Homo sapiens: one gene and its partners. The protein of the gene in region 1 purifies or fractionates together with the protein of each later gene. This does not show direct contact. Each region holds a gene or a part of one and is shown on either strand. Other genes may lie near its edges.

What was found. The genes of interacting proteins can lie anywhere in the genome.
Region 2: the proteins of GABPA (region 1) and SPRR1A purify together in Homo sapiens (affinity purification with mass spectrometry; one large-scale study listed by BioGRID and IntAct). This does not show direct contact.
Region 3: the proteins of GABPA (region 1) and CUTC fractionate together in Homo sapiens (co-fractionation; one large-scale study listed by BioGRID). This does not show direct contact.
Region 4: the proteins of GABPA (region 1) and SERPINA9 purify together in Homo sapiens (affinity purification with mass spectrometry; one large-scale study listed by BioGRID and IntAct). This does not show direct contact.

What each region holds. Positions count from the first base shown.
Region 1 is NC_000021.9:25,755,472-25,758,971, reverse strand, and holds part of GABPA (GA-binding protein alpha chain), read right to left. Parts: intron 963-3,500; coding exon 768-962; intron 1-767.
Region 2 is NC_000001.11:152,982,802-152,986,314, reverse strand, and holds SPRR1A (cornifin-A), read right to left. Parts: upstream 2,235-3,513; 5' UTR 2,190-2,234; intron 1,118-2,189; exon of another isoform or gene 1,104-1,117; 5' UTR 1,085-1,103; coding exon 815-1,084; 3' UTR 501-814; downstream 1-500. UniProt on the Homo sapiens protein: Cross-linked envelope protein of keratinocytes. It is a keratinocyte protein that first appears in the cell cytosol, but ultimately becomes cross-linked to membrane proteins by transglutaminase.
Region 3 is NC_000010.11:99,749,234-99,752,733, forward strand, and holds part of CUTC (copper homeostasis protein cutC homolog), read left to right. Parts: intron 1-1,135; coding exon 1,136-1,163; intron 1,164-3,500. UniProt on the Homo sapiens protein: May play a role in copper homeostasis. Can bind one Cu(1+) per subunit.
Region 4 is NC_000014.9:94,469,698-94,473,197, forward strand, and holds part of SERPINA9 (serpin A9 isoform A precursor), read right to left. Parts: intron 1,578-3,500; exon of another isoform or gene 391-1,577; intron 161-390; 5' UTR 144-160; coding exon 1-143. UniProt on the Homo sapiens protein: Protease inhibitor that inhibits trypsin and trypsin-like serine proteases (in vitro). Inhibits plasmin and thrombin with lower efficiency (in vitro).

The sequences.
Region 1 (3,500 bases):
CAACCTCCCAAGTAGGTAGGACTACAGACACGCACCACCTTGTCCGCCTATTTTTTGTATTTTTAGTGGAGATGGGGTTTCACCACGTTGGCCAGGCTGGTCTCGAACTTCTAACCTCAAGTGATCTGCCTGCCTCATCCAATTTCTTTACATGGTCACTTAATCATAATAATGTCTGAAGCCTTACAAGTTATAAGTGGAAAAACTTATAACCAATGGCTTCCAATGCCAAAAGGTGGCTGCATACACTTCCTTCCCTCTTAAGACTCTATTCAATTAATAGTAAAGACTTCAAAAAAGATTTAATCTCATCAATAATGAAGAGAATGGGTAGGAAGCCACCTGTAAACAAATGATCTCTTCCGTTTCTAGATGAGCAGTAAATGTAAGAGCTGATCAAACAGAAGGCAACAAATGGAATATATGAAGAGGGCTAAGTGTAGGGCACAGCATCTGATTTAAGAACTTGGATTCTAATGTTAGCCTGGGCTTGAATCCTGGCTCTGCCACTTCCTAGCTGTGACTTTATGGGGCTCTCAAAGCCTCACTTTCCTATCTAAAAAATAAGCAAAGTAATGACTTATGGTGTTACTATAGGAATTAAAGAACATATAGAGCTTTCAGCATAGCATTATACAGTAAATAAATGTTAATTATTATTGCTTATTACTTATCATTATCAATAAACAACTAAGATGAAAACAAAGTTACAAGGAAATAAAATTAAGCTTAAATTACAATGTAAAGAAATAACTGTAATTTCATACATTTTCGGAGAAGTTCCAGATGACTCCAGAGAATTTCTCCCCGAGGAACCCGCTGAAAAAAATCTTCTTGGTTGAGACTACATAATTCTCTCCCCGAAATGTTGAGTGTGGTGAGGTCTATATCGGTCATGCTGAATTCCTTCATTACCCAAACCACCCAATGCAGGACTTGGTCTGTGGACCACTGTATGGGATCTAGAAAGAAAAATATTCACTTTAGCCTAGTTCCATTTTAGATACTGTGTAAATTTACAGTTAACTTCTCAATACACACACATACACACAGATGTTTTCTTTCCCCAAGTATATGAGGTAAACTTACTATATGAAGCAAAAAAAAAAAAAAAAAAAAAAATTATGCTGTAATTTTTTCCTCAGCTCCTTTCCAATTTCTTAATCTAAATTTCTGATGCAGTCACTTGGTTCAACCTCAGCTGGAACTGTATCAAGAAAAACAAAATGCAAAACTGCTCTCCAGTGGGCCAAATGAAAGAATAAAATATGAGATTATTCTGGAGAGAATAAAGTAAATTATCCAAGTTTAAAAAAATTTGCAGTTGCATTGAAAAAAAATCAAAAGGGGATTCTAAGAAGCTAGCTTTATTCTCCAAACTATGAACCATATCCTTTTTCCTCCCTTTTCCTTCCTGTAAAAAGCTGGCTGCTCCTGCATTTACCCTTATGATGCATTTCCAATAAATAAATAAACATGGTAATTGCCTGTTTTACTCAGCTGTCCCCTCACAACACACTAAGAAATACAAGAAATGTGTCTTGTAAACCATTCTATCTTTAGAACCTAACAGTGCCTTGCTCATACACTTGTTTAATCTTAAAGAGTATATCCAAATAATTTTCCTTTTCCCTATCATTTACTACCTAATTGAATTCATAAATAAAAAAATATGGCCAATATCTATAAATATTACATTGCTGTATCACCCGCACCTAATAGAGCATTCTATCTGTGTAAGTTTAATACATATTAGCTAAATTAGTTTTGGTTCTGGTACTCCCACTTTAAGAAGATGATCTATTCAAATAATATTGGTTATATACCCAATAAATAAATGCTATTCAATAAGAAAAGTAGAAAAAAAATAACATTTAGGTATCGAGGGCAAATTATAGTGAAAATAAATCAAACATAAGAATTTTATAAAAGTTCTTCAAAGAGGCAAAGTGCTATTGAAACTGAAACTATTCCATTTGAGACTAAAGGAACAGAGGTGCCCTAGCCTCAAAAGGCAAAAGCAAGCATTCTAAGAATACAGGATTAATAGCCACAGAATATATATTTTAAAATTTTTCCATAAAGTTGTTAAGTGAGGATTCTAGGAAGATGGTGGCAAAGTTTTTTAATTTTTCTGAATTGTACACATAAACATAAAAAAGTGACTGGAGAACAAAACCAAAAACCCACGAACATTTACATAAAACCAGGTGACAAGATATCTTCATGGACCTCAAGATACAAGAGGGTAAAGACAAAGCAATAACAGCTATAAGACCTCCATGGTCTTAGCTTGTGTGCAGGAGAAAGCAAAGGGAAGCAAGGGAAGTGTGACCCACTCTGATCATAGGAAAACCTGAGCGCAGCCAAGAAGCATGCATTCAAAGTACAACAGGACAAGATGAAAGCAACGCTAAAAAGCAGTTTCGCCCAATCCAATAGCTGCAGTGTGTGTTAAGATTTAAAGGGCTGAAGCAATGTAGCACCTGGGTGTTTGTCAAACTGAGCCAAGAACCACTTTCAGGAGAATGGCCCACAGTAAGGAGAAACTGGCAGAGTGGAACTAGAAGTGAGCAGCAGAGGGACGCCAAGGAAAAGGAAAGAGGAGAAGGCCCAGGTAAAAGTCGACAAGAACTGAAAAAGAAAGTTGCCTTATCTGTGAGTACTATACTACTTGAAAACAACAGAAGCAGAGTTAAATAGAAAAGCTATCCTGAAACACACCTCTTTTAAAAGAAAAACAAAGTTAATTTCACATAAAAATTTAAAAATAAAAAAAACTCAGGGAAAAATATAATTTGTCTGATTTGTTTTCTCAAATATCAGGACTTCTGGTTTAACATAACTAATTGTCCACCCATGTTCTGCCTCCTTTCTCTAAGACTCTAGTAAAACAACAGTAAAGGAATTTTTAAAAGATGCAAAATCATAGGAACATGAGTACAAAGTGACAGGCATGGATGAAAGATTTAATCTAATGTTTTGAAGACAATAAGCAGAGTGGTAATCGATTTGGCATAGGAGGGGAAAACTATGACCTAAAATGTTTGCCAAGGAGGATGCCAGTAAGAAGTGAGAGAATTCCTGCCTGCAGAACCCCCTTCACTGGTTCAAGTCATGGTGGTTCTGAGTAGCAAGAGGCTTAAAGCTGAAAATAAGGAGACAGATTTAAAGTAGATGGTGTGGTTAGAACCTCCAGGGTCTCTCTTTCATTTGGGGGGCCAGTTAAATGAGTGCACCCCACACATGTGGACACCGGGAAAACATTTATTAATAGATGGGGAGAGACACGAACAGACACTGAGAGAACAATTCCCAGTAATAAAAGCCTATAAACTGAAGAGTGAGACCGTCTCCACCTTCTCTACCTCCTCCCTGCTCTACTTCCTTTTCCAGTTCCACAACACAGTATTCACATACACACCTACCCCAAATGCTCACCCCTATCTTCTACTGCTGACAGGTATCTGCAAAAAGATCTATAAATATTGACACGTTTG
Region 2 (3,513 bases), on another chromosome or scaffold:
GTGGGAGTGAATATGTGTTTGTGGGTATGGTGTGAGTGTTCAAGTCCTTGGCTCCATGTATTGGGGGCATCAGAAAAGGAAGATGAGTGCAGAACAGATCACTAGGCTGGACTATGCACAAGCACTGTTTCTTTGGAATAATTTTTAAAAAGGAATCAACTAAACAAAGATGATGATGGCTTGAAGCGGGCACCATCTACACTCACATGTGACTCACTGCAAGTCATTAAGATATAAACATTAAGGTAAAAGAAAAAAGCCTTGCTCTAGCTCTGCCTACCCAAAGTAACAGATTGGGTTGGTGGCCCTGAACATACTCCCACTTCCAGCCCAGGAGTGTCCTGTGTGTACAGCAGCCATACACATTCACACACATTCTCAGTGTCAGGATCGGCCACCTTCTGACTACAGACCTCACAACCAGCCTTCACAGTGTTAGTTCCTACTTCACGCTGAGAAGGCAACAGAGGTTGAATCAACCAGTGACGCACAGCCAGATGTGGAGTTAAAAGTTATTTATTGAAGGAAGACTAGGGATGGTTCACTTGATCCTTCCCCAAATCCATCCTCAAATGCACCCGAGCAACAAGAAGACTAGCTCAGTCAGTGAGACGTTCAGCCTTACGCAGAGGCTCAGGAGCCCTCCAGAATGAGGGTAAGGGACATCTTTTTAGAGGTGCAAAGGAGCGATTATGATTCAGGGTGACAGCATGCTAACTGCAGGGTCAATAGGCAAATGGGATTCATAAGCAGAATGGAGTAGGGTGTTCAGTATCCAGTGGCCAGCTCCTCAAGGGCATGGCTGTGGACCACATTACTTCTGCTTGGTCTTCTGCTGGGCTGGTGCTGGAGTGACCGTTGAAGGGCAGGGCTCAGGCACCTTGGGCTGGCAGGGCTCTGGAACCTTGGGCTGGCAGGGCTCAGGCACTTTGGGGTGGCAGGGCTCAGGCACCTTGGGGTGGCAGGGCTCCTTGGTTTTGGGGATGCATGGTTCCTGGGGTGGAGGCTGGCAAGGTTGTTTCACCTGCTGCTGCTGAGGCTGAGGGGGTGGGGTGCAAGGCTGCTTCTGCTGCTGAGAATTCATGCTTCAAATGTGTTTTTTTCTAGAGACAGAAAGCTGACACAGTGATTCAATTAAAGAAAGATGGATACAAATTCAATGCCAAACAGATTTTATTTCAGGACCCTTTAGAAGAGAAAGCCTTTCATCTCCCTTAACTCCCCCATTACATTTAAAAATGAAATAAGCTTGGATAATTTTCAGGCCCTTTGAAGAGGAGGAGCTAAAAGGCAATTTCTTCTGCTCCATTTTATTGGAGTTCTCTTCTTGGCTCCCTTCCTACCCAAGGCAACTTATATCTGTTCTGGAAAAATGCCCTACTAAAGCTGGCTTCTGAGGGACATGAGGTCCGCATATTAGGTCTTTTGGAAAATGGCATCAGACCACTTTCCTCTCCTAGTACCATGTAGAAAGCCTGTGACTTATAGGATGGCTTTATATTCATCTAAGCCTCTATGGTTTTGCTTCTGGTCTGTGCTTACACAGTCCCTTCCAAATGCTTTTCTTCCCATCTCTGCTTGTCCAAATACCCCTCCATCATAGCTCACATCACTTGACACCCCTAGGAGGGTCTCCTTGAGCAAGGTCTCCCAAAAGTGCACAGCCCTTCTCTGCCCATCTCCGTCATGCCAATTACTATCTACTTTGCATTTCATTTATTTATATATATGTATTACCTTCCTGCTAGGTTTTATGTTTGTTAAGTAAGTACGTTAGGCATTGATTTGTCCAAAGTGCCTAGCATACTGCCTTAAATGGAATAAATGCTCAGTAGAGATCCATCTAATAAATTAAAATTTCTATAAATATCTTGTCAGGGGGAAATTGCAGTGTTACTGAGAGTGCTCTGGGCCTGAGTTCTAGTTCTGCTATGAACTTCCCATGGGCATTTGAACAATCTTCTCCAGGACTCCCAGTTCAATGACTATCTACTGAGGTGGGAGCCCTAACCATCTCTAAGGTCCTTTCAAATCCAGACTGTAATTTAACTTAAAATAAAGATATTCCACTATTCTCTATCTCCCATTGAAACCCTGGATTAACCTGCTTACACATATTTGCCTTTAGCTAATTTCTAATAATGAAAAAGTACACTAGAATTGCCAGTTTGTTGCAATCAGAGACTTACCTGGTATACGGAGCAGAATGGGCTGTGTGGTCCCTTGGGTTTGGTGTGAAGGCAATGGCCAGCTGGCTTTTATAAGATGAATGAGCCCTGCCTCAAGGAAATAGAAGCTCTCGGGCACTCTGTTTTCATTCCTCACCTGTCACACATGACTCACACTACCATCCTCATCACCGGTTGGCTCAGCTTTTTTGATGAACACCACCTGATATTTTTTGGCACTGGCTGGCTGAAAATGATGTCACTGGCCTAATTTTCACTGCCACCCTCATCCTCAGACCCAGGTGCAGGGCTTGCCTTGAGGGAGGGGTGAGCAGCAGGCTTCATGGAGGGTTTCATGAGTTAACCCTGGGGGGACATCTGAGTCCTGTTGAGGCCTTGCCACCTGCTGTCCTTGTCATTGAGATGGTTGTTCCCCGTGTTCTGTGGGACAGGGCACTCTTGCACACATGAATAGGTGGGAAAGGGAGGGGGAGCAGAGGAGCTGAGGTGGGCCCTCCTTGTCTGCCTTGGTGAAGGTGGAAGCTAGAAATAATGAAATGGACTGATTATAGACCCCTTGTCTCAGAGTCCAAGACCCTTCCATCCATTTCCCCCATCTTTTTCCCAATTCCATTAAACTACACACATTCAGAATAATTTACTTATGACTCTCCCACTCTCACCTTCCTCCCCCTGACTGGTTGCTAATCTGGGAAAACCTGCTTTCCTTCACCAACCACACCTTTACCCTTCTCCTACTTCAGGGACTTTCAGGGGCTAATCCTTCTTCTGGGATCACTTTTTCCCTTCACTCCACCCAGACATCTGGCCCTGGCCTTTTCCTCCTTTCTGATCAGGCTAGACTGCCCCCCACCTGAAAACCCAAAAGCCTTTTCTACCTGCCTCCCTGCAGCCCATCCATGGGGTCCTCAATGCTGAATCCTTCTCCACTTTTGCCCACTGCCAGCTCCAGCCCCAATACCTAGAGATCCTGCTGGCTGCAAGGTTTTCCTCCTCCTTCTGGGTCTGTATCTCCTGGGGGCTTTCCGAGGGTCAGAGCTGTTCCTGCTTAAAGCAACGGTGTCCCCACCACAGTGTTTATTTCCTCATTTATTCAACAAATCTCAGTGGGGAGCCTAACATATGCCCATCATGCCTGTCATTCTAGGAGCTCTCTGATGAGGAAGCCCACTTTTCCTCTACAGATCATGAACTCCCCAGGGTAAGAGACAGAGCACAGTTGAGAGCCACTGAGATTATGGATCTCAGAGAGCCTTTAGTTCACACTCCTCAAGGGATGATTGGGGAATCTGAGGCCACCAGAGGTGAAATAACTCACCAAGGT
Region 3 (3,500 bases), on another chromosome or scaffold:
GGTCTGTGTTTAAACCCTGGCTTTGACCCTTACTAATAGTGACCATGGATACATTACCTAGCCATCCTAAACCTCAGCTTTGCTCTTCTGCAAAGTTAGGATAATAATAGCACCTACCTCCTAGAATAGTTGTGAGGGATTTCTTCAGGTTATAGCACTTAGTAATTGTTCTATATTATTAAATCTGACATTTAGTGACTGCTCTATATTATTAAATCACTTTGATAGCCTTAGATAAGCATATACTTCTAAATAATCTTGTATGGAAGGCGAAAAGAAATGGTAGAATTCATTTCTTTAAAAATATTATTTCTCTATGTTTTGGAAAGCCTTGATTTGGAAGAAACAGGCAAATATGACTTTTTTCCATTCTGAAGTGATTTCAGCTTTTTAGATAGTCAATGTTTTGTTTTATGGATGCTTTGTTCAGGCCATTTGAGAATATGAAGCATCCTTGTTCCATTTATTTCCCTAACAATTTTTAAATTATTTGAAATAGCCACTCCCCTCTTTCACTCTCTTGTTAACTTTATTTTTTGCTTTATTTATTCACTTGCTTTATTTTTTCTTTGTTATACTTATTGCTACCTGGAATTTTATTGTATAAATATCCCTGTGCATTGTCTCGTCTTTCTTGAATGTGTAAGCTCCATGAGAGCAGGAACTTTCTCTTACTCACCATGTCAGGGAGGAAAAACTTTTCTTCTATCCTCAGGGTTTGTTATTGGGGGCCTGCAAATTAAACTGACTAAAGACAGATTAGCAGGAGTAAAAAGAGATTTTATCACATAAGTACATATATATGTAAGTACATACAGAAGTTCACAAAGAAATATGACTTAGAATTGGGGGCTTATATACCATCTTAATAGGTGAAGGGGAAGGAGAAAATGGCACTTATTGGGGGGGAAAATGACTTTTTGGAAAGATAATTTTCTAGAGACAAATTTACTATGCTGGACATCTTACTTGTCCAAGATCCCAAAGAAATAGAGAAGATCTAGTAAAAATTAAACATTAATAGTAATTTTTAAAATTTAATATATTCTGACTTATGTTTCTATTCTCACTGCCTTATTATCCCATTCAAGAGAAAGATATTAAAATTCACTTGTTTTTTTTTTTCTTTTTTCAGGCAAAAGGCAGGATTGTGGTAATGCCAGGTATTTATTTATCTATCAATTCACTAGCATAACACTGAACTATAGTGGAGGAAGAGCAAAGGAGGCAGGAAAATGTGAGAGAGAGTATTAGTACATTACATATTAGTACATGATCTTTAAAGAGAAGAATATATAGTTTGATTAAAATGTTTAAAACTGGGAGATCTGTGCTAGAATTTAAAAGTTTAGATAAGAAGGAAAATATTGTAATAGGCATTAGCTCAAAGAGGAGCAAATAAGGAAGCAGATAGAGATTGAGGTTTCTCCATATTTGCTCTCCCATTATATAGAACTTTATGAATTCAGATGTTCATCTCTGGTGAGGCACATCAAATTTGATGCTAATCATATTTTGTTTAGGACAAATGTCCTAATAAACAGGGTTTAAGCAAAGGTTTAGGCAACATCCTTGGGTAAAATATAATACTGTCTCAGTTCCTGAAAATCTCTGATTGCCAAATTATTTCTTGTAACCAGAATTTAATCATATGATCCTGATGATAACCATAAGATCAGTTAAGTTCATAATGGCTAACTAGAAATGAACAGTTGGAGCAGTTTTTAAAGAATTAGATAATACAACATAGAAGAGTGAGACAAATGTAAAGACAATCTTAATTTTTTTAATTAAGTTTCTCAAACATATAAAAAAGTAGAAAATAGCATAATGAATACTCATATGCTCATTCCCTAGATTTAACATTTTGCCAAATTTGTCTCATCTTTTTTCTATCCTGAGGTATTTTATTAAAGTTAAATTGAAAGCATCATGGCATTTTATCTTTATTTATCTCTAAAAAGGGTGGGATGTTACCATAATGACAATTCCATTATCACATCTATCACAATAAACATTTAATACTCAACTTTCTCCAATTGTCCCCACAATGGTTTTTATAGCTGATATGTTCAAACTAGGATCCAGTCAAGGAACAAGCATTACATTTTTGGTTATCTTTTGTTTGTTTGTTTGTTTTTAGAGATGAGGTCTTGCTATATTGGCCAGGCTGGACTTGAACTCTTAGCCTCAAGCGATCCTCCTGCCTCAGCCACCCAAGTAGCTGGGACTACAGTTGCACGCTGCCATGCCCAGTTCTATTATCTTTTAAAATATCTTTAATATAGATGTTTTTCCTTTTATTTTTCTTGCTTTAAAAAAAAGTTACATTATTAAGTTTGGGCTGGGCCCAGTGGCTCACGCCTGTAATCCCAGCACTTTGGGAGTCTGAGGCAGCCAGATCACCTGAGGTCAAGAGTTCGAGACCAGCCTGGCCAACATGGTGAAATCCTGTCTCTACTAAAAATACAAAAATTAGCCGGCCATGGTGGCATGTGCCTGTAATCCCAGCTACTTGGGAGGCTGAGGCATGAGCATCACTTGAACCAAGGAGGCGGAGGTTGCAGTGTGCTGAGATTGCACCACTGCACTCCAGCCTGGGTGACACAGCAAGACTCCGTCTCAAAATAAAATAAAAGTTTGGATCACTTACCCTGTAAAATGTCCTACTTTCTGGATTTATCAGATTATTTCCTCATGATATTGTTTAGCTTGTTCCTCGTGCCTCTGTATATCCTATAAACTAATAGTTAAATCATGAGGTTTGAATAGACTCTGCTTAAATATTTTTGGTCAGAATACTTCATGGGTGATTCTGCATACTTACATCATATGACATCACATCAGAAGGTATTCAGTCTCTGGTCATCTCACTACTAGTGATGTCAAGACTGACCAGCGTTCAAAATAGTGACACCTAGATAAAGAGTAACTTTTAAAAAGAGGCCGTGAACCTGGGCAATATAGTAAGACACCATCTTTACCAAAACGTAAAAAAATTAGTTGGGCATGGTGGCGTGCTCCTGACGTCCCAGCTACTCTAGAGGCTGAGGTGGGAGGATTTCTTGAGCCCGAGGTCAAGGCTGCAGTGAGCTATGATCGCACCACTGCACTGCAGCCTGGGCAACAGAGTGAGACCCTGTGTCAAAAGAAAAAAAAAAAAAGGCCATATAAGGGGTATTGTCAGATATTTAGGAAGGCTTTGACCTATAACAAGCCCTTGAAACATAAGCAGAGAGAAAGTATATATTATCTGTCAAATTGTGGTCCTTTTTGGTTAATCAAGGAATGTTAAAGAGACTCTGAGTGTGATGCTTTTCCATTTAGCACTAAATATATATAGTTTTGACAAGTAATACTTAGACAATTGTTGACATTAAGAGTACCTTTGTTTAATATGCAATTGTTATCAGCTGTGTGCAAGGCATTACTTGGGATGCAAAGCTACACAAGAAACTACGTTCTCAAGAAGCTGACTCAGGTCAAAAGATGTTACATAC
Region 4 (3,500 bases), on another chromosome or scaffold:
TTGAGGGAATACACCTGTGAGGCAGGGGTGCTCTTTGTGGAGGAAGGGCGGGGGTATGCACTGGGGGCATTGGCCGGGGACACACAGTAGATTGGAGCACAGAGGCCAACAGCAAAGAGTACTCCATAAAGGTAAGATGCCATTTTGGAACAAAATATGTCTGCAAGAGAAGTAAGAACCATTGAGGGGGTAAACTGAGGGTCCAGGCCCTGAATCAGAGACCCTTTAACACCCCCACGCCATCAGCAGCAGAATGAGGACAGATAGGCCAGTTAGCAGAGCTCTCTCACATAATCTCTGAGCCTCACAATATTCCCATGATGTAGATCTTATTATTGCTGTTTTACTTGCAAATGAGTAAACAGGCCACAGAGAGTCTGTGCAACTTACCCCAAATAGCATGGTTGACTTGTCTGTGTTCTGTGTGGGCTTCAAAGTCAGGTCTCAAATTCCAAATCCCATGCTTTTTGATGTTTCTGCTTCATGGACTTATTTTTTAAGAATTGAGTATGTGAACCCAGATTGCATTAGCAGCCAGAAGTGGTTTCTCACCCTTTGGAGGTCCCTCCACACATTCTTTATCCATTTTGTGTAGATCTGATTATTTTCTCACCCTGGCTGCCTGTTCCCAGACACAGGCATTTTACTAATGTGTTCATATCTCTCAAAAAGTGGAAACCTGGAGCAAAAGGCTGTCCTTTTTGCTGTGCTCCTTCAGGTGCCCTGAGCACTGGCAGTCAGTTGCTGATGAGCTGCAGTTCTAGTCACATCTGTCTGCTTCCCCTTCAAGCCTCAGCTGACATGGCTTTGGCCCCAAGGAGACTTCAGACTAAATGACCTGATAGCAATTTCAAACCCCAACAGGGCTGGGCTTGAATCTAACCCTGACATTCGTGGTGGACAAGTAACCTCTCTGGACTTCTCTGTTTTGCCTTTGTAAAACAGAGATAGTTACCTTACAGAGTTGTTCAGAGGACTGAGTGTGATAAGGCACAAATTGTGCAGCACGGGACCCAGCACATGGTGAGCGCTGAATACATTACTTTTACTGTTGTTTTGTTGAAGTCAGAGAGAATTTGATTGGAGCAACTCTATCAAGTACTGCTCACAGGTCTCCCCAGCCCTGCCTACAGCACCCTCACCTGTTCAGTTTCATCAGAAAGATTTCATTTCCTTTAACACAACTTTACAGAGGAGCTCCAACCCTGTGCGTTGACCCTGAGATACAACAGTAAGTGGTCATTTTAGAGAAGGAAGGTGTATGAATCCAATGCAAGGCCAGGGGAGGTCTGTGCTCAGCCAGAGGGGAAAGCAAAGCAGGTGTGTGCTCCAATAGGTCACATCCGTCTGAAGGCTTTTCTCTTCTCACAAATTTTATAATTTCCCCCCCATGACCTGGATGTCCTTCCCCCCATCATCCTTTTCACAAGCACAGTGCCTTCATAATCCCCCTTGCCCTTCATCAGACTTTGCTCTTTAGTCATTTATACTACAGTGTGAATGGCTGCCACCAACTCTTCTCCTAGGAGCACCGGCATGAAGTGTTACTCCTGATTGTGAAGGAAAGACTTTACCCACTGGAACAAGAATTCAGTCAATAAGTGAACAATTATTTTGCCAGAAATGGAGAAGGAAAAGATAAGAGAACCTTTGCCAAAAGCGACAAAAATATTGCCACACATAGTCACTTGTCTATGTCAGACCAAGCATAATGTGACAGCCACATTCCCAACAATTTCTCTGTGGAAATGAAATATGTAAATGAATCACATTTTATTATACCAGATATAATTTAACTTAGATGGAACTTTATAAAGAACCCTTTTACTGAATGAGTAATTCTTTTGCAAACCTGTTCATTTCTCTCCATTTCCACTTATGTGATTGGCGATTTCTGTTGTGTAGTTTTGTATTTGCCTGTTTGACTAAAGTGGAATTTTCTTTCTAAGTTACATTCGCATCCATCCATCCACCTACTGGACTCTTTGCCAACCTGTTCTGAACTGACCTCCAGAGCTGCCCCCACCCTGAGTGCCCCATCTCTCCCTTTCTCCAAGAAGGCCATTTTACCCATGCTGCCATCTTCCAAGTCAGGAGACTGATGGCCACTCTGCACTCTTCGGCCACCCTCCTTCCCCACATCGTTCTTCCTCCCCGAGACATCGCAAGCCCCAGCTTCTCTCCATCTCTTTGCTTTTCCCTTGGTCCAAACCCTCCTTATCTCTCCCCTGGACAATCCTGAAGGCTTCTGGACTCATCTCCCTCCTCTGGTCATGCTTCCTCAAAACGTTTTTCTTAAGAAACTTCACCAATTTGACTCTGCACAGAGACGATCTACTGGGAGATAGAAGTGTTGGGGCTACAATGGGGGACAGATAGCCAGGGTCCTGGCTCTTAAAGAGTTCTCTGGGAACCCTATGACATGTGGCCTTGAGAGTTGACTGCTTCCCCTCTCTTCGGCCCCACTGCTGGCCAGTGAATTTATCTGCAGCCTCTGCAGTCAACACCAATAGCAACAGCCCAGGGTCCACCTCCCTCCCTTCTCTTCCCACTCACCTACCCCTTGCTCAGGCATAGCATACTCTGCTACAAATGCCCCTCCTGGATGCCACCTTCCTTTGCTAATGGAAAAGCCCTTGTTTCTCACTCTGGAAGACTCTACTTAGCTATTACCGGCTTGAGAGGCCCTCCCTGGCTCCCCTCTCCTGTTGTGACTTCATCACTCTCTCCCTTCTCTCTTCTGGCACTTCTGAAATTTACTCGACTTCTATTACCAAATGGATTATCACTGACCACACGCGTGCCTTTAGATAATCTCTAGGTTCTTTGAATGTGTAATTTATGCATTTGGTCCATTGGGTTGAACATGTACGCTTATTATGCAGGTACTATAGGAGGTGTTGGGGCTACAATGAGGGACAGAGAGACAGGGTCCTTGTTCTTAAGGAGCCCACTGGGAAGACAGACAATTAGCAAACACCACTAGACACAAGAAGTGTGTGTGTGTGATGAGTAAGTACAGGCATTGGGAACACCTATTCCATAACAAGAAAGGCTTCCAGTGGAAGTGGCAGCTGATTGAAACTTGAAAAATGTTAGCAAGGTAAAAGGGAAAAGCAGAGAAGAGAGAGATTCAGGCTGGGAGGACCACCTGTGCAAGGGCCCAGAGGGAACCAGAGCCAGGCAGCTTTGAGGAACAGAAAAGGTTCTGACACAGATTTCAGCACCACAGAAGCCGGCAGGAAGGGCTGGGGAGCAGGAGAGACCAGCTGCCGAGAGAGGGGGCCCCATGCAGGGATGTGCGGACTTGGTTCTGTGCCCTGGAACCCACTGGGGGATGGCTGCAGAGAACCTCAGCAGCAGAGAATTCTCAAGACTATCCCTGCACCTGTCTGTGTTCCTCATTGCTCTACACACCTGCTTCCTGTCCTCCTTCCCCCTTCCCCCACCAGCACGGAAAAGTGCCCAATGTATGGGCTCAGTAGACACTTGGTGTGCTG